Linked DNA regions of Homo sapiens: region 2 is linked to region 1. The links come from fine-mapping of genetic effects on gene expression. Tissue or cell type: whole blood. Region 1 holds a variant in brackets; the other region holds the start of a gene. All regions are shown on one strand. Distances are from middle to middle.

Region 1 (8,000 bases):
ACAAAAATCATATACCCTTTTGATGGTCAAACCCACTGAATCACAATGAATTTAAACCTTGACCATAAAACAGCTTTATGATTGTTTTGCTTCACTAGAGAAACAGGATATTGGAGGATAGGATCTAAATTTGATATTAGATAACTTAAAAAGAAGATAAAAGCAAACGGTATTGAGATACATATATATATATATAATCTTTATATATAATCTTTATATATAATCTTTATATATATATATAATCTATCTATATATATATATACACACATATATCTGCCTATAAATTCAGTGATGTGTGTATGCTTTCTAGTGAATTTCTGTTTAAGTTCTGGATCATCCCCTAACTCCTACTCCCAAGGAAATTTCAGAAGAGGCCTTTTTTTCCAAGAGGTAGTAATGCTTGTAGCTTTTGTTCTTCCATGGAATCTTATACAATATGTGGTTCAGTCCCAGCAACACAAATAGATTTCACCCAATTCTGTTTCAGTTTTGAAGCTGGGTTACCCCGTGAACACCTCAGGAGCTGATACCGTGTGTAACACGTCTCTATACCCTGCTTCCTGGTGTGGTGTCTGGCACACAATTGGCATGCCTTCCTTCTGCTGAATTGAATCCTTAAGTCCAAGGAACTGCCAAGTCAAAACTTATTACCAAAGGTTGTCTACATTAATACATAGCTGAAAAAAATTCTGTTAAGTACCTGCCCATTGATACAGCCTCCAGCAATGATATTAGGATCACTCGGACAGAACTTGAAGCAGAAGATGTCATCTGGGCTCTCCAGCATTAACTAAAGTAAACCCAGCAAATTCATGAAAGAATGAGAAAAGAGATTAAGATCATGGCGAGAAAATAATATTAAGACAGTTAAAAGTCTAATTTTATAGCTATCTATAAGCAAGGTGCGTAGAGAGTCTATTCTCAGAGTTCTGCCTCTGGACTAAAAGCTGCTTTTGCTTAATTTTATTGTGCACATTGGCCATACGAGTGACAGTGAGTATGTTCTCAAGGGGACCCAGGTATTCCCCAACCCACCCCTCAGTGGAAACAAATTGTAGTTATTTTGGGAGCATGTTACAATGTTTATAACAAAAAGACTATGAAATTAGTGTTCCTGAAAACCATGGAAGGGAAGCTCTGTGAGGACAGGATCTGTGTCTGTTTTGTTGCTTGCTGAATACTGAGCCAGGCACTCCTGGAGTGGAGAGGAGATCTACAGGGTAGAAAGGTTAGAAAACTCTAGTGAGAGAGTGGCTCTGTTTTTGTGGCTGACAAGAAAGGGCTAGAGATCTTTCAATTTGATCTCTGGGTCTATAATCATTAAAGTATCTAGAATCTATTACAGTAAAACTACCTTAATTCAAATGAATTGGGGAAAGGAAGAAGGGGAGGCTAGGGTTTTTTAGGGAAAGTCTTAATTATGAATACTTTTTAGAAACAAAATATTATTATATTTAAAACATTGAAATAACTTAATCTAACACTATACACCACCCACCCACTAGGCAGATCTCTTATTGAGCAGACCATGAAAACTAGAACCCTGTGTAGCAAACCCAGCCTTCAGCCTCATTTTATTTGAATTGCTATGTGTTTTGGTTGGTTTGAGTGGGGTTTTTGTGTGTTTTGGCTTGGTTTTAGTTGAGCTATTTAAAATTGGGCGATTTCATACAAAATTCCAAATTTCTCAATTCTCTTGACAATGGGACCACCTGGCAACAAGAGGGCAGCCAGCCTAGAGATGGATAATGCACTCTCCAAGGCCGCAGTCCCTACCACTCCCCAGTGCTCTCCCACACATTCACCTTTATTTATTACCCAGTGATCCTTGGAATTGAGGAAACTCATGTGAAACTAAAATCTATTTGCATTTGACCAATTAGTATTCAAGTAAAGTCCATAAAAGAGTTTGTTTTAAAAATAGTTTAAACATTCCTCTTACAATCTTTGAAAAAAATAGCATGTTGATTTGTTCAATAAACAAATTGTAAACTTTAGTTTTGCTCAAATTGAATGATGACAAGTTCTGCATTGAAGAAAGCCTAACTTTATAAATGTTTACAACATTACATGATTATAAAGTACTTTGCAATAAAAACTGCTAAAGGTATACATGAAAGTAGTATTTGAAAATTTAGGCTATGTAGGCAACTCTCCCTAATTACCTGAGGATGTATAGGATCAGAGAAGCTCCAGAAAAGAATCAGTGATGGCTGCAGCAATAATTTACCAGAAAAGTGAACTCTGTCTTCAAAAGAAAGTCGCACGGCTACCGACACAGCTATTAGCCCTGATGGAAACACATGTAGAAATTAAAGTTGGCAGCAACTATACATGGAGAGATGTCTCTAGCTTTTGCTTTTCTACACAGCCACTCTTCATTTACACTTTGTCCACAGGAGAGCAAGAGTTTTCTTAGAGCTCTGCTGGCTAATGTGGTTGCCACTAGTTACATGCTACTTATTTAGCACTTGAAATCTGGCTGGTCCAAACTGACATGTACTGTTAGTATAAAATATACAGGGGACTCAGAAGATTTTGGAAGAAAAGAAAATCTTGTTTTGTTTCTTTTTTGTGAGAAAAGGGCCAGTGTAGGGTGAAAGGAGGAAGAAAGAGGACAAATACCTCTCTCTTTCCATGTTTCCATCTTTGCACATCCCTACCTACCTCCCTTGGCTGCTGAGCTCTTTAAAGGAGGCACATTTCCTCTCTTGTCTAGTAATCAGAAAGGCAGTGTTAGGAGGAAGAAATTTAGCCTTGGGAGAGCAACAGGCCCAAGCCCAACCCAGACTCTGCCTTATGCCATCTGGGTGACCTGGGCGAGTCACTTCCCTGAGTTGAGCTTGGGTCCTTTTGTTGTGAAACAGAGATAATGACAGGTGTGTATCCTACAGGGTTGTTGGGAGGACACATGACAGTGAGGGCGTGGAAAGCACATGGCAGGTACCTAGTGAGTACAGAGCAAATGGAAGGTGTCTTATTGACATTGAACTAGTTTGCAATTTTACATATGAAAGCAACAGACAATTTCAATGTTATCACAAAAGGGAATCCCCATCATTTCCATCTCACCATAGATAGTTGGATGCCATGAGACACAGGTAATCATTTTCTCCGTTGGGCTATGAAGGTCGGTAAAGGACTGGTACTCTTTCAGGTGGGTATCGGTCTTGTCCCCAAAGGTGCCTTCTTCTTCTGCGAGGTATTTCCAGTCATCAATAAATGTGTTCATGATTTCATTTTGCTGCAGGGCTATTTCAACACTAATTTGTAAAAATAAAAAAAGCAATTAAGATATTGGTTTTTAGTATCCAATAATGTGACTATCTTAGCAACTCCTCCTCCTTCATTTATACTGAACAAAAAATAATAATTCTCAATTATATTTGGTGATAATGATTAACCTCATGTGAAATAAATGACTTAAGAGAAAAAAACATCATGGTGGCATGTTACTCAGAACCTCGAGCAACTTCATGATCTGCCTCAGTTTCCAAGCCAAGGCTGTACTCTCTCCAGGCCAATGCCTGAGCATGCAGCTGCAGGGATGGCTGGGCCTGGCCAGTCCTCCTTGTGCAGCACTCCCACAGCAGGCATCTTTGCTCTGGAGCTCCTGCTGAGTAGGCTGAGAATTTGTCTGATGCTCTACCTTCCCGGTCCTGTCTCCTCCTCCTTTATTTTTCACAGTGTAATCCTCAGTAAACGTCTGCCTCTAACTTGATGTCATTTGCTTCCTGGAAAGCCCCAACTGTCACAAATGGCAGTTTTCTTAGGCATATTCTGTACTAAATGATCACTTATCCTTAACAGGATAGCCCCAATACATATGTAATTCAAAACAACAAATAAGAGATTCTGAACAAGGGAAGAATTGGAGTTTAGAAGTGTGTGTGTGTGTGTGTGTGTGTGTGTGTGTGTGTGTGTGTAGTTTTAGTTGTCACAATGCCTGGGAGGTGCTACTGTGTTTAATTCCATTACCAAACCTCCTGCAATGCATGAGACAGTCCCCAAAATGAAAAATTATCCTGCTAAAAATACTAACATTGCTCCTTTAAGATACCATCTGAGTGCTAGGATCATTTGCTAATAGTCTAGGGACCTTGGTTTGACAGGCTCCTGTCTTAAAGTAGTTACTATGATAGTTATTGTCCCTTTTTATGCTTAGATCTGAAAGCTCTGCATACTCCCAAAGTTGCTAAGAGCCCTCCCACAATTAGAATGCCACCCAAGGTTTTACCCTACTGATCAAAACTGTAAACTTCTTGGTTTTATATAGGTGTGGTAAGTTGAAAAAGTGGTTCTCAATTGTGAATTTCTTAAAATAAGAAAAAATCCTTTAGATAGTTCAATATAAACAGTAAAAACAGATACTCCTAAAATATAAAAAAGGGCACCGTTTGATACCCCTGTCATTGATCATTACACTACCAGTCATTGCCTAATTGAGTCCTCCCTTGGTTAAATTCTTCTTGTATTTCATCTTTCAAAATAGACCCCTTTCCTAAGACCTGGCCACTTAAAGTGTGATCCAGTGACCACCAACATGACCTGGGGCTGTTAGAAATGCAGAGTCGCAGGCTCCACCCGACTTACTGAGTCAGAACCTGCATTTTAACAAGAGTCCTCAGGTGATTCATAAGCACACTGAACATTGAATAACCCTGTGTAGCGGACTCTCGAGGCTTAAACAGTTTCCAGTAGAAGCATTAGTAAGCATTTTCCAAATCATATTTCTTTCTGGTTAAGCCCAAATGAGAAGGGAATTCTCAAGAGAAAAGTTAAAGACGTGGCTT[C/T]CGCTCTGGTTTCCTGATTCTACCTCCTTAGCCAGAACGGGGAAGTAATTCAAACGGAAGAAGTGAAAACACATCTTTCTTCTGGTTTCCGGTTTCTTGCTTTCCTGGAACCATGTAGCTCCCGAGAGTAACAAATTGGAGGCTAGCAAAACTGTTGTCTAGGAATTTTAACCCCGAAAGGAAGGTTTCTTAGTTGTTTTGTGAATCCCCCTGAAGTTCCTCTCTCTCATCTCATGTCATTGCCTTCTTTTGCAAATAATGCTTCCCTTAAGTTTGTTTTAGATAAAATTCTATGAGAAAGAAATTTCCCATTTCTAAAAGGGCTTTCTTCCAGAACAAAATCAGGCTTACCTTAATTAAAAACTATTGAATAAAGCTTAAGCAGTTTTAAAGCTGGAAGTTATGTTTGCAGTGATATAAACATGGGTTTCTTATCCACTCTGGGCCAGTGCTATTATAATTCCTGTGCCAATTTTCCTCTTTCTTCTTATAGATCTGGCTTCTCCTTCCCACATCTCAGGGATGGAATCATAAAGCTGTCCACTATTCTTTTCTTTATAAGCATGGAAATTCAGAGGGAAGAATAAAAGCCCAGGTCTAAAGATAATATACAATGTGGATTTATTTTGAACATTTTTTTATTCCCTCAAGATCTAGTTTTCTCTGGATATTGATTATATGTAAACAAACTTCTCATTTTGAATATTCTTACAGGAAAAATTGTAATGACTACTAAATTTTGATAAGGGGAGGGTGAAACTCAGGTTTTCTTGTTTCTATCTCATTGCCCGTATAGCAAAAATTATAGCATCCTTCCTGCGAGTGGCAAATAATGTTCTCTCTGAATCATTAACTGAATTTTTGAGCCAGAGTCTCCCTAGGCATAAGTAACAAGTTTGAGAGTTGTTGGAATTTTTAGGATATTTAATCCAGTATGAAAGAACCAACGACATTTCTTAAAAATAAAAAAGTTTAACTTGGGCTATATATGAACTTGACCACCAAGTTTTTAATTTTAGAAAGAAATAGAAACCAGCCTATTGAGTATAACTGGCAGACTTGTCCTCCAGTGGATCCACTTCTCTAAACTCTAGTATCAGCTTGGTGAGAACTTGTCAAGCTGTTTCTCTGGTTTAGAAGCCCCAGAACTCTACCCAGGGTCCTACTAACAGCTTAGGGGGCATTTTGAAGATGCTTCTCTTTCAAAGCCAGTAAGAGTGCAGGAACACAGGAATTGGTGATAAGAGTGAAATGTCCAAAAAGACATTTGAATTAAATTCAGGTTCTCATCTACAAAGATATTTTTGCAAATACTTATCATCATAATAATGGCCACAGCATTCTCCTCATCCTATAAAAAGTTAATGAGGAAGAGGAGTGAGGAGTGGAGAAAAAGAATTACGTAAAAGTAACCATGGTAAATACAAGTAAATGTTAATCTGCAATTAGGAAAACATCCTCACACACTCAACTCCTCACACAGTTTGATGTGGCCTTAGCTTGATAGGGCTAAGATGTTGCTTAGCAATAGAAAGGAAATAAATATTGAGAATCTGTAGAATGTGTCACACTGACAACTGTCTTCATACTTTTTATCTAGATACCCTATATGGAATTGTTTATTTAGACCTGTTATTCTATGTAAACATATACATTTTATGTTTTATTTTTAAAATTTAATATGCAATTTTTTACCTTATGGATGCATTGTTAAGAAAATCAACCAAAGGCTTTGATTGTTTGAGTGTCTCTTTTTCCTCTTCTGAGAATTCTCTTGGATAATATTGCGTAGTAGCATTTTTAGGATATGTCCTAATATATTAAAAGAAAATTCAATACTAAAGATTAGGTCAAAGAAGAGCAAATATGGGCCACAACAGGTCAAAAGTGTGTCTCTGTGACAATGATGTTAGGATATTATTTTATATTTAAATTATATACATTGAATTTTCTTTATCCTAGACAACTGATATTGACCACTATTCAAAGGCTACATGAATTTCTCTCCAACATAATCAAAAAAATCTTATTTTTGTAAAATTTTTACCTAGAAATCATTTCAAACTTATAGAAAAGTTATAAGAAGGGTATAAGGAATTCCCACACACCCTTCACCCAGATTCGTCAATTATTAACATTTTGCCATCTTTATTGTTTTCTCTCTCTCTTCATTTCACTAAGTCAGTGTCCACCTCACCCCCTCATGGGACATTTGGCAATGTCTAGAAACATTTTTGGTTGTCACAACCTAGACATGCTACTGGTGTCTAGTGAATAGATCCCAGGGATGCTGTTAAAAACCCTACAAAGCACAAGACAGCCTTCCCTCAAAGAGAATTATCCAGCCCCAAATGTCAATTTGTTGAAGTTGAGAAACTCTGCTCTAAACATACAAAACTAGGAATAAGATACATTTCAGCAGTGATGGTGGCAGGAAGTCTTGCTCCATCTAGTATGCTCTTAGTGGCCTCTGTATGTGAACACCTCATATGGCATTGTACCTCTGGGCTTTATCAATCTCAAGTATTAGACTGGGTGAGCCCTTGATCTTGGCATGTAGAGCTTGGAAAAGTCACAGGGCACAATCATTAAGAGTGTGGATTCTGGTGATTGGCTGCCTGGCTTTGAAGCCTGGTTCTATCATTTACTAGCTATATGACCCCTGAGCCAATTATCTAACCTTCTGTGCCTGTGTTCTCATCTCTAAATGAAATTATTCAAGTAGCTAGTTCATAGTGTCATTGTAAGGATTGAATGTGTTGATACATGCAAAACTTTAAAAACAGTGCCTAGCACATTTTAAATGATCAACAAAATATTATGTAGTATTTGTGTTTGTTGAACAAATGTCAGCACAATGCAGAATGTCTCTGTGAGAGGTAATATATTAAATGGAGAGTAATCAGACAAAGGGGTAAAGGGAGTTTTTAGAATAATTCATTTTTTTTCCTTGTTTAGGTCAGTATCCATAGCAGAAGGCAGAGTGGTAGAAAGAAATAATATTAGTATTGGAACCAGAGAGACTTGGGTTCAATTCTCAGCTTCACCTTTTAATTTCTGCTCTCTAGACAGGGTTAAGTAAAAAAAAAACAAAATGATATATTGCTTGGTGGTTTTATCAAAGTAGCAACATGCCTAAGAGTCACTCTTACTTTCGAAATATGATTTGTTTTGTTGTTTTTCAGCAAAACCATTCATTATTGCTTC
Region 2 (11,151 bases), 43 kb after region 1:
AATAAACTTGGATGGATATAGCTTAAGACAAACTGGTAAGGTAAGTGATAAAGATTAGGTACAGAGCAATGCTATCTTTGTAAACAAAAACATGCATGAATGATTCCTATATATAATGGGAACATATATTCAAGAAAAGTATTACAAATGGACTGAAATGATTCACACCAATTCATGATAGAAGGTTGCACTTGCAGAGGGTTGGTGTATTAGTCCATTCTCACACTGCTACAAAGATACTACCTGAGACTGGGTAATTTATAAACAAAGTAAGTTTAATTGACTCACAGTTTCACATAGCTGGGGAGGCCTCAGGAAACTTATAATCATGGCAGAAGAAGCAGGCATCTTCTTCACAAGGCGGCAGGAGAGTGTGAGTGTGTGAAGGAGGAACTGTCAAAAACTTATAAAAACATCAGATCTCCTGAGAACTCACTCACTATCATGAGAACAGCCTGGGGGAAACCGCCCACATGGTCCAATCACCTCCCACAGGGTCTCTCCGTTGACATGTGGGGATTATGGGGATTACAATTCAAGATGAGATCTGGGTGGAGACACAGCCAAACCGTATCAGTTGGTTAACTTTATAATGCTTTATTCCTCATAAATTAGGAAGGCCAAAAACAAAAGAAAATATAAAATTTGTTCAATTTGGGGGGTTGTGGGTATTGAATGGCATTAATGTATTGTTATTTTTGTACTTTTCTGTATTTGAAATTTTCTCAAAATTAAAAAATCATCTTCTAGACTGTAAGATCCTTAAGAACAGCAACTATATTTTATTAATATTTTCATTGGCAGTATCTAATACCATTACTGAAAAATAGGAGTCCTCAATAAATACTCGCTAAATATGTATGTGTTAAATAAATAAAAATTTTGTTGAGAGAAAAAGAAGAAATTAAGGGGAGAAAGATGAATGGTACGGATGTAAGAAGACAGAAACGTAAAAAGTATTTTGGGTTTACAAATGTGTGATTTAATACCCAGGCTACCTGACATTTTCAGCTGAGCTGTTATTCTAAAACAGATAGGAATTTTGAATGCGAAGATAAGGAGTGAAAAAAGCTCCCTTTCACCCAGCAGATATGAAGAATGTCATAGAGATCTATTGGCTTGAGATTCAGGAGCAAAAAATTGGAATTCTTGAAATCATAAGTTATTTTGTAGTTTTCATAACACTTTACATGTTTTAAAAACATAATGAGTAACCATAACAATAAACTGAATCTTTTCTGTGCTAGGATTATACTAAAAGTTTCAGAGGTTTATTTTGGTTTAAAAAAGATAATAAAAGCATGATTATTATTATCAGCCAACATACTGAAGAACAGTATATATTTGATTATATATGATAATGATCACTACCTGTCATAGATATTTCATAGTAAAAATCATTAAAGGAAGGAAGCATCAATGCAAAATAAATTCTAAATAAAAAATTCTAAATTTTAATTAAAAAATAATTCTTCAAGTGACAATTTAAAACACATAAAACAATTTCCTTATCTGATAGATTTCATCTTTGCTTTGTGACAGATATTCCAGATGAGAGAAAATTTCTCTCATTTTGCACTTCATGTCAGTTCACTTGTTAAACGTGCTTCCAAAGTATTATCAGATTGGACGTTGGGGTATCTGTTGCTTTATATAAGCTCGTTTACTTTTTTAACAAAAAAAATATTTTGTTTTACAAAGAACTAAACCCTTCAGTGAATATTCAAACTATGGAAAATGCAGAAAACAAGATTGGGTATTCAAATACAGTTATGCATAGCTTAATGATGGGGATATGTCGTAACAAGTGCATTGTTAGGTAATTTTGTCGTTGTATGAACATCATAGAGTGTACTTACACAAACGTAGATGGGATAGCTTTCTATACACCGAGGCTATATAGCGTAGCCTATTATTCCCAGGCTACAAACCTGTACAGCATGCTACCTTACTGAATACTGTAGGCATCTGGAACACAGTGTTTAGTATTTGTGTATGTAAACATATCTAAATATAGAAAAGGTACAGTCAAAATATGATATAAAAGATTAAAAATGGGGGCCGGGCGCGGTGGCTCACGCCTGTAATCCCAGCACTTTGGGAGGCTGAGACGGGTGGATCACAAGGTCAGGAGATCAAGACCATCCTGGCTAACACGGTGAAACCCCGTCTCTACTAAAAATACAAAAAATTAGCCAGGCGTGGTGGCAGGTGGCTGTAATCCCAGCTACTTGGGAGGCTGAGGCAGGAGAATGGCGTGAACCTGGGAGGCGGAGCTTGCAGAGCTGAGATCGTGCCACTGCACTCCAGCGTGGGCAACAGAGCGAGACTCTGTCTCAAAAAAAAAAAAAAAAAGATTAAAAATGGTACACCTGTATAGGAGACTTACCATGAATGAAGCTTGCAGGAGTGGAAGTTGCTCTGGGTGAGTCAGTAGGTAAGCAGTGAGTGAACGTGAAGGCCTAGGTCATTACTGTACACTACCATAAATTATAAACATGTACACTTAGACTACACTAAATTTATTTTAAACATTTTTCTTCCTTTAATAATAAATTAATGTTAGCTTACTGTAAGTTTTTTACTTTATAAACTTTTTATTTTTGAGACAGGGTCTTGCTCTGTCGCCCAGGCTAGAGTGCAGTGGCACAATCATGGCTCACTGCAGCCTCGACCTCCTGGACACAGTGATTCTCCCACCTCAGCCTCCAGAGTAGCTGGGACTACAGGCACATGCCATCATCCTTGGATATTTTTAAAAATTTTTGTAGAGATGGGGTCTCCCAATGTTGCTCAGGCTGGTCTCGATCTCCTGGACTCAAGCAGGCCTCCCACCTTGGCCTCTCAAGTGCTGGGATAAACAGGGATAAGCCACCTCTCCTGGCCTAAAATTTTAAATTATTTATTCATTTATTTATTTTTCATTGCACAATGGAAATGGTATGAACTTTTATTTATTTTATTTTTATTTTATTTTTGTTTGAGACGGAGTCTCCCTCTGTCACCCAGGTTGGAGTACAGTGGTGCAATCTTGGCTCACTGCAACCTCCGCCTCCTGGGTTCAAGTGATTCTCCTGCCTCAGCCTCCAGAGTAGCTGGAACTACAGGCACCCACCACCAAGCCCGGCTAATTTTTGTATTTTTAGTAGAGACAGGGTTTCGCCATATTGGCCAGGCTGGTCTTGAACTCCTGACCTTGTGATCCACCCACCTTGGCCTCCCAAAGTGCTGGGATTACAGGCGTGAGCCACCGTGCCTGGCCAAACTTTTAAAATGAGTAAACTTTCTTTTGTAATAACACAGCTTAAAACACAAACATATTGTACAGCTATACAAAAATATTTTATTTATATCCTTATTCTACAAGCTTCTTTCTATTTTTCAATGTTTTAAAACTTTTTTTTGTTAAAAACTAAGACAAAAACACAGACATTAGCATAGGCTTACACAAGGTCAGGATTAACAATATCACTGTCTTCTACCTCCACATCTTATCTCACTGGAAGATGTCCAGGGGTAATAACAGGCATGGAAGTGTCATCTCCTATGATAACACAATCTTCTTCTGGAAATCATCCTGAGGCTATTTGACAGCTGGCTTTTTTTTTTCAAGCAGAAGTATACTCTAAAATAATGATAATAGTATAGTAAATATGTAAGCCAATCACATGGTTGCTTATTATCATTGTCAAGTATTATGTACTGCACATAACTGTATGTTCTACACTTTTATAGACTGGCAGTGCAGTAGTAGTTTATTTACACCAGCATCCCCACAAATAGGTGGATAACGCATTGCTCTACAACGTTATTGCGGTGACATTATTACATCACTAGGTGATAGGAGTTTTTCAACTCTGTTATAATCTTATGAGAAGTGTTGTATACGTAGTCAGTCGTCCACCAAAATGTGTTATAATAGTAAGATACCATTTGGATATTCTAGCAACAACAAAAGCATTACATAGAAACATATGTTGAGGCCAGGTGGGGTGGCTCATGCCTATAATCCCAGCACTTCGGGAGGCCGACGTGGGTGGATCACCTAAGGTCAGGAGTTCAAGACCAGCCTGGCCAACATGGTGAAACTGCATCTCTACTAAAAATACAAAAATTAGGTGGGCATGGTGGCATGTGCCTGTAATCCCAGCTACTCGGGAGGCTGAGGCAGGAGAATCACTTGAGCCCGGGACGCAGAGGTTGCAGTGAGCTGAGATCGAGCAACTGTACTCCAGCCTGGGCAATAGAGCTAGACCCTGTTTCAAAAAACAAAAACAAAAACAAATGTATTCTATGACTATAAATGTATTGATGTTTATTTACAAGAATGACTCACTGACAAGTCCAGAAACACAAACTTATAACATTGTAAAAGTTAAAAGCAAGATTGACTGATAAGATCTTTACCGCTTCTCTTTTATGCACTCCTCTCTTGCTTTCCAGGAATGTTTATGTAAACCTTTGATGTCAGCGTTTCCTGTCTTTCTTTTGATTTGGTTTCAATATATTCCTTTAAGCCAGTAACATCATTATGTTGATTGTTAAGGTTTAATATTCCCCTTTACATTGTTTTAACATCTTTGTCAGAAATCAATTGACCATATATGTGTGAATCTATTTCTGGATTCTATTTTGTTCCATTGCCTATGTGTAGTCTATATGTCTGTCTTCACCAGTACCAAGTTGTTTAGCTTAAATAGCTTTATAGATATAGGTAGGATAAATCCTCCAGTTTTATCTTTCTTTTAAAAAATTGCTTTGGTTATTCTGGATTCTTTGCATTTGCTTCCATAGGAATTTTAGAATCAGGTTGTCAATTTCTACAAAACAGTTTGCTAGAATTTTCATTGAGATTGGGTTGAATCTATAAATGAACTTGGTGAAAACTGACATCTTAATAATACTGAGTCTTGTAATTTATGAACATGGTTGATATTTTCATTAAGTTTTCCAAATAAAAGGGGGAATCAGCATTTATAAGCACATCACATATGCCTCATATAGTAATGGGTGCTTTACATGTATCATATTAATTAAAAATCACCATTCCTTTTATTAGCTAGATTGTGTTAGGGACAAGCTACCCCAAAAAAGCTTCTTGGTACTGCCAACACCCCCGCCCCCCACCCCCGCAAACCTCTCCGTACCACCCCTCCTCTTCCCCCAAACCTTTTTACATTTCTAAGCCCCTATCTAGGCACCGCGGTGAAGCCAGGAGACTTTTACCTATCAGGTCTTGCTGCTATAAAGCAAACCCAATTACAAACCATCCGGACTGCACAGTGGGAGGTCGTGGGAAGTATAAACAAACTTTACCTACACCCTCCGGTACCATAAACGTCACAAGGTGATATGTGGCAGAGTTAACCAACAAACAACTCCAGGGTCTCTCTCCCCCACATAAAACCCTCATTTTGTAAGCTCAGGGCTGCCTCCTCTGTCTGTAATGGAGCAGCCGGCAGGTTGAATAAAGGCTTGCCTGAACTTGGGTCTCGGTCTCTCTCGGTCTCTCTCTCCCTCTCTCTCTCTCTCTCTCGTCCTTTCTCTCGGCTAACTTCACAGATTGCACATAAAAAAGAAAAGGGGTTCAGAGAAGGTAAGTAACTCCCTAGAGACCAATAAGTGGCACAGAAGGGAATTTGGGCCCTCATCTGTCTGACTCCAAAACCTGGCTTTATCTATTCACCGGTCCTTATAACTCAGCTAAAACGAGGGTTAAGCAAGTGCCATCATTTATGACTGTGAACCTCTTCAAAGTTCAGATTGTTCCTGAACAATCAAGCATTTCAAACTCTTACCATCAAGTAAGGAGATAGCGTTACATCGTGTGTAGGCATATGGGGATTAAAGATTACATTATATTTTCCAAATTGCACTTGAGAATTGACTGTGCCAATTATATCCTTTCTGGGTATCTACCTTGTTCACAGTATGTGGGATCCAGGTTGAGGAACAGCATAAAATTCTTGTACCCTGTTGCAAAAATTTATTAGTAATCCATGCATACTGGTTTAGGATTTGAAAACAGGTTTTATAAAAGGTTTGCTAGGTATCGATCTAATTTCAGGAATACCCTAGTAGGGAAATTCAGTGACCTTTACAAATTTACCCGTGGCCAAAAAAAAAAAATAAGTAAAAATTAAAAATCAGAACACATCCAAAGTAATTATAATTAAAATTAACCAAAGTTCCTGATCCAATCCTGATAAGGGGTATTAGGTTTAATATTTACAGATAATTTATGAAGAAAAAGATTACGGTTCAAAGTCTACTTCAGGTATTTCTATTTACATTTCTTGGAAAAGTTTCCCAGGGCTCTTTCTGCCCCAGCCGCCAATCTACAGAAGAGTCTAGTCGACTGTCCACTCATTTCACAGCACTTGTCTGAAACTAGAAGACCCAGGGAGGGAACAAGGTTCAGGCTTGAAACGCTAAGACATTCAAGATTTCACCTTGTATGCAAAAATCAGAATGGGAGGCTGCAGCGGGGCCTCACACTCACCGGAGCTAGGCGCTATAGATCCCGCACCCGCGGAGCCCGGCAACCACCTGAGGGGCCTTGGCCAGGAGGGGGTGGCCCCCCGGCGCCGGCGGCAGCTCCGGAGCAAACCTGGCAAACCCGAGCAGGGCGGTGCGGGTTGCTCAGGGAGAAAATGAAGGGAGTGATAGGGTGGGGGTGGCAGGGAACGGGCACAACGCCGGCTTCCTCCGGACGGCCTCCTGCGTCCCACCTGTGCTCCTGAAAAGCGGCCCCCGACAGGGCGCGGCGGGAACCCGAGCCGGGAGTAGGGTCACGAGTTAAAGCGGCGGGGGCGGGAGGATGCGCGGGCGGCGGACGGGGCGCTCTCCTCCCGTCTGACTCTGGGCGGAGCGGGGCTCGAGGCTGCTGGAGTCGCTCGCTGACTCGCCCTGCGCCCTCGCCGCGGACACCGGAGCTGCGGCCGCTCCCCGCTGTCCCCCAGGTGAGCCCGCGGGGCGCTGCCCCGGGGCGTCGGGTGTCGCGGGAACGGCGCCCGCGGCGCACAGGGAGGGCCGGGGAGGCCGGGAGGCAGCGAGCTGTCGGGGACGCCGCGGGAAGGCCGGGCCGGGCAGTCGGCGCCATGGAGGGCAGGCGGGCTGGAGCTGGGCGCGAGATGCAGCTGTTCCGCGCCGCCCCCAAGCCGCCCGCAGGTCAGTGGAGGAGCGCGCCTGCCGGGCCTGCCCGGGGCTGGGCGGGTGGGGGTGCTCTGCTCCTCGGTCCCCCTCCAGGCCGCCGCCCACCTGTGGCCAGGGCTCAGAGGGCTGGAAGCCACCCCCGCCCGGAGCCCCTGGGCTGGAAGGCTTGGATGCCGGCCGGGGCTCCAGATGGCCTTGACGCGGCTCGGCTGGCCCCTTTCAAGGCGGACTGTCCCCCTGTTAGAGGTGGGGGCGGCTGGAAGTGGGGGCTCAGGCCCGGGTCGCTGCGCTGGCTGAAAGCAGCCGCCAGCCGGGCTGCGGCCGTCTGAGCTCCACGGCAGTGCCCGGGGATGGCAGCGACCGCTCTGGGACATCGCTGCAACCCTGCAGATCTTTCTCGCACACACTACCCAACAAAAGTGTCAACCCTTGTTGTTTGTTTGTTTGAAAAAAAAAGAAGACTGGAGAGACTAAAGTTTTGTGTCTGGTGAAGTGGGAAAGCGCTTCTGAAAAAACGAGGTTGCATAACTTTGTCGCCAACTGGGAGGCCTTTGCTATTTATACACTCCCGGGCTTTCTCCAATTTTCTACAGCTTACTCCAATCAAGCCTCTGCCCGCCAGGAACAGGTAACCTGTGTGTGTCCGTTTGCTCCTTCTAAGAGCATGCCTGATAGATACTTCGGTAGCCTCTCCGGATGGCCCCTTCGTCGGGTAGCCTCTCCTGATGGGGTCCTTCGCCCACCCTGCCTCCCGCGCCGGCGCTCCGGGTGAATGTCAAGGGTGGCTGGCTGCGAATACCTCCTTCAGCTGCTGGGGTTCCCGACAGTTTGCAGTTTTTAAAAGTGCACCCTCGGAAGGGCTTTTCAGACTGGGTAAACCTGACTTTTCCAAGGTCAGCATCTGGTCCTGGTGAATGAAATGTCTACCGGGACAACTCGTTGTGATGTGCTGAATATATGCTGGTTGGCTTGTTTTCTCTTTGTTCCTGTGGATTACTGTACATGGTGTGTGGCTAGTTTGTTTAAAATTTAATTTTCCCTGTATCAAAGTGGAAAGCGCTTAGTGTCAATATACAACTCACCAACATGCTTATTAACAGCTTCATCATTATGTTGGTGTTCATATGCGAGCTTTGGTCAACATGAAATCATCTGCGTTTTAAGTCCTATAGATAAAGTCTCCTTAAATGCTGGTTAAAATATCCTGCCTTTTTGAAGGAAGTAAAACTGTTAAGTGAAAATCCTAATTTATTAATAACTTTTTCTTTCCTTTATGCCTTTACCTAAGAATTACTGCATTTATGCTTTGACAGGCATTTTAACACGCACACAGGAGCCACACTTTAATGAGTTATATAATAATTATTTCATTTTGAAGGTACTGCATTTGCCATACAGTAAATATGTTTTATGGTTTATTCATCCAGCAGTATCCTTATTAATCTTTTCATTAACAAGAGTTTAAGAACCTTCCCCATGCTATTCTTTATAGCCAGTATCTATTGTTCGGAGATGTTGGGCTTCCTAAGAATGCTTGAATTGGAATCAAAAGTGGGGTTCTAGACTTGGAAAGCAGCATGGTATCTAACCAGTGACTTGTAAGATATTGTATGAATGCAGGTTACAATTTTCCTTCTTCATTGCTGAGTACAAGTTATTATTAAAATGTCAAATAAAGCCTGCCTTTCTATTCCGTATGGAAGGACGCTACTCATTGTTTGGGGTATTTTACTTTGAACAGGTTTCCATAGTATAATATCAATCTTAGTCTGAGGGAAAATCCAAGATCCATCCCAGTCTCTAGAGTGACTTCTCCGTCACTTTGAAAAAACTGATTCTGAAGACAATAAAACCAGCCCGACCCAACCCTTTTCAAACGTACCTGCCCCCCCCCCCAAATAGATATGAAGTACTTTGAAAATATGCTATAAATATAAGGCCTTCAATAAAAAGTCATTACAAGCGATGCCACAGACTGGGAATTAGGCTTAAATTGAGGGCCCATTTTCCCCTTTGTACAACAGTTATGTTTCCTGAGGCTCATACTGCCCCTTAAGAACCTTACTGGCTTTCTAGGAAGCCACCCTGTCTGCTGTGGGTGTTAGGTAGGTGAGTCTGCTTAGCGCTAGACCCTATGCAAAGGCTTTGTTTACTGTTTTATTTAATGCTCTCTACACTCATAACTATTTAATTCTGGCTACAATCATAGAAGGGTAGGTGTAGTTATTCCCATTTTGCTGGAGAGGAAACTGAGGCTCAGAAGGGCTAAGTGATTTCCCTGAGATTGCAGAAACGTCAAGTCATGGAACCAGGATTAGAAACCAAACTGAATCTTGTTCTTTACACTACACCCTGCTATCTTTAACTCGGTGGTTTTAAACATTTTTTGATAATCTGTGAAAGTTTTAGTTACCTCCCAGGAAAAAGTGTCCACAGCCACATATATGAAAGTTTTCATATAACTTCAAGGCCCACCTACCCTCTGAAGTCCTTCCCCCAGGTCCTCAGGTCTCTGATCCTCTAACTATACTGAGTGAGGCAGAAAACATATACATCCTATATATATGTACATATAATCTTTTACTAATGGGAGCAGCCCTTGAATTTGGTAACTTTGAACTAGGTGAAAATTCACTTTGTAATTAAAACAAATAAAAAAGTGACGTCCTACATTGGAACTGATTCTGTAAACATCTAAAATGCAGTTTAGAGCAATGGTGCTTATTTGAAACCAGGACTTCTGTATGGGCTTCTCCTTGCAATATTAAAGAATATGGACTTGTGTCTTTACTCACTAAATGGAAATGTTGGTTGTTGTTGTTGTTGTTTTTTTCCTCTAGAGATGGCAGATCCTGAGGTAGTTGTGAGTAGCTGCAGCTCTCATGAAGAGGAAAATCGCTGCAATTTTAACCAGCAAACATCTCCATCTGAGGAGCTTCTATTAGAAGACCAGATGAGGCGAAAACTCAAATTTTTTTTCATGAATCCCTGTGAGAAGTTCTGGGCTCGAGGTAGAAAACCATGGAAACTTGCCATACAAATTCTAAAAATTGCAATGGTGACTATCCAGGTAAGCATCTCAGATCATGAGTTTGGTGAAAGCCTCTTTTAATTACAAAGATAACTATGGACAGTGGTTTTTTTTTTAAATAACTTTTAACTATATGCAAAATGTTGAAGAGTAACAGATAAGAAAACATACAATCTTAGACCCTTCTGTCTTCAACATTTGTGAAAGAGTTTGTCTTCTTTTTTCTTAGTTTTTTTCTTGTATCGTTCGCTAAGTTATAATTTTAGTCACATAATCTAATTAATTTTCAGGAAAAGAAAACTAATATTTGGCTTCCAATGAAGAGGTTCAGCTGGTTTCTAAATAAGCCATGGAAACTAGTGTTGTCCAACATTAGGACTTTCTTTTCCTTCCTAGTTAGTTTCCTGGGAATTTCTCTCTTCAGAAACTTAAAGGGTTCCTGCTACAGGCAAATTCTTAGATTCTCACAACCCTGTGATCATGAGAACCATGCAATGGAAGAATGTGAAGTTAACTAACAGAAGAGGAGTGGCAGGAGCTAGTGAAACACAGGACCTCTTTTTAGTTCAAAGGGAGCTTTTAAATCACATTTCCTTGGCTGCTTTTAATATTTTTTTGGGGGAAAGGGGGAACCATATTTTGTGATTCTTAATATATACTGGTTGTGATTTATTCTTATGAAAATATGTTTTCCTGTTGGTCAAATTATCTCTTGCTAAAAGCAAAGGGCAAAATAGAAGCAGATTTTAGTGAGAAAAATAGATGTGATAGGTTTATTTTTATTATTACTTACTCTTCCTAAGTTGGTGAAAAATGCCTAAGTAAATAAACAATTGGTATTGAAGGAGAGATTAAAAAAAACAGGATATTACTAATTTTAACTGCTTATTGAGAACAAACACTTATGATTGTTAGGGAACCAAGGCAATTTTTACAATCATATGAAGTTGGTAGAATTCTTGCTT

What was found. PIP is the estimated chance that this variant, and not a neighbour inherited with it, causes the effect.
Region 2: it holds the start of MCOLN3, and the variant in region 1 is fine-mapped to the expression of MCOLN3 in whole blood (TOPMed, PIP above 0.99).

The regions. Positions count from the first base shown.
Region 1 is chr1:85,088,721-85,096,720 of GRCh38, reverse strand. It overlaps DNAI3 (dynein axonemal intermediate chain 3), which reads right to left. Exons shown (of 23, transcript NM_145172.5): 8 at 6,489-6,605; 9 at 3,073-3,263; 10 at 2,166-2,290; 11 at 701-790. Among named protein-coding and RNA genes, the nearest start is that of DNAI3, 30 kb to the right of the region's middle. The variant C/T (reference allele first, on the strand shown) is at 4,794.
Region 2 is chr1:85,044,207-85,055,357 of GRCh38, reverse strand. MCOLN3 (mucolipin TRP cation channel 3) reads left to right here and starts at 6,858. Exons shown (of 13, transcript NM_018298.11): 1 at 6,858-6,962; 2 at 9,996-10,225. The coding sequence starts at 9,998. RefSeq lists silencers at 6,457-6,596, 6,627-7,376.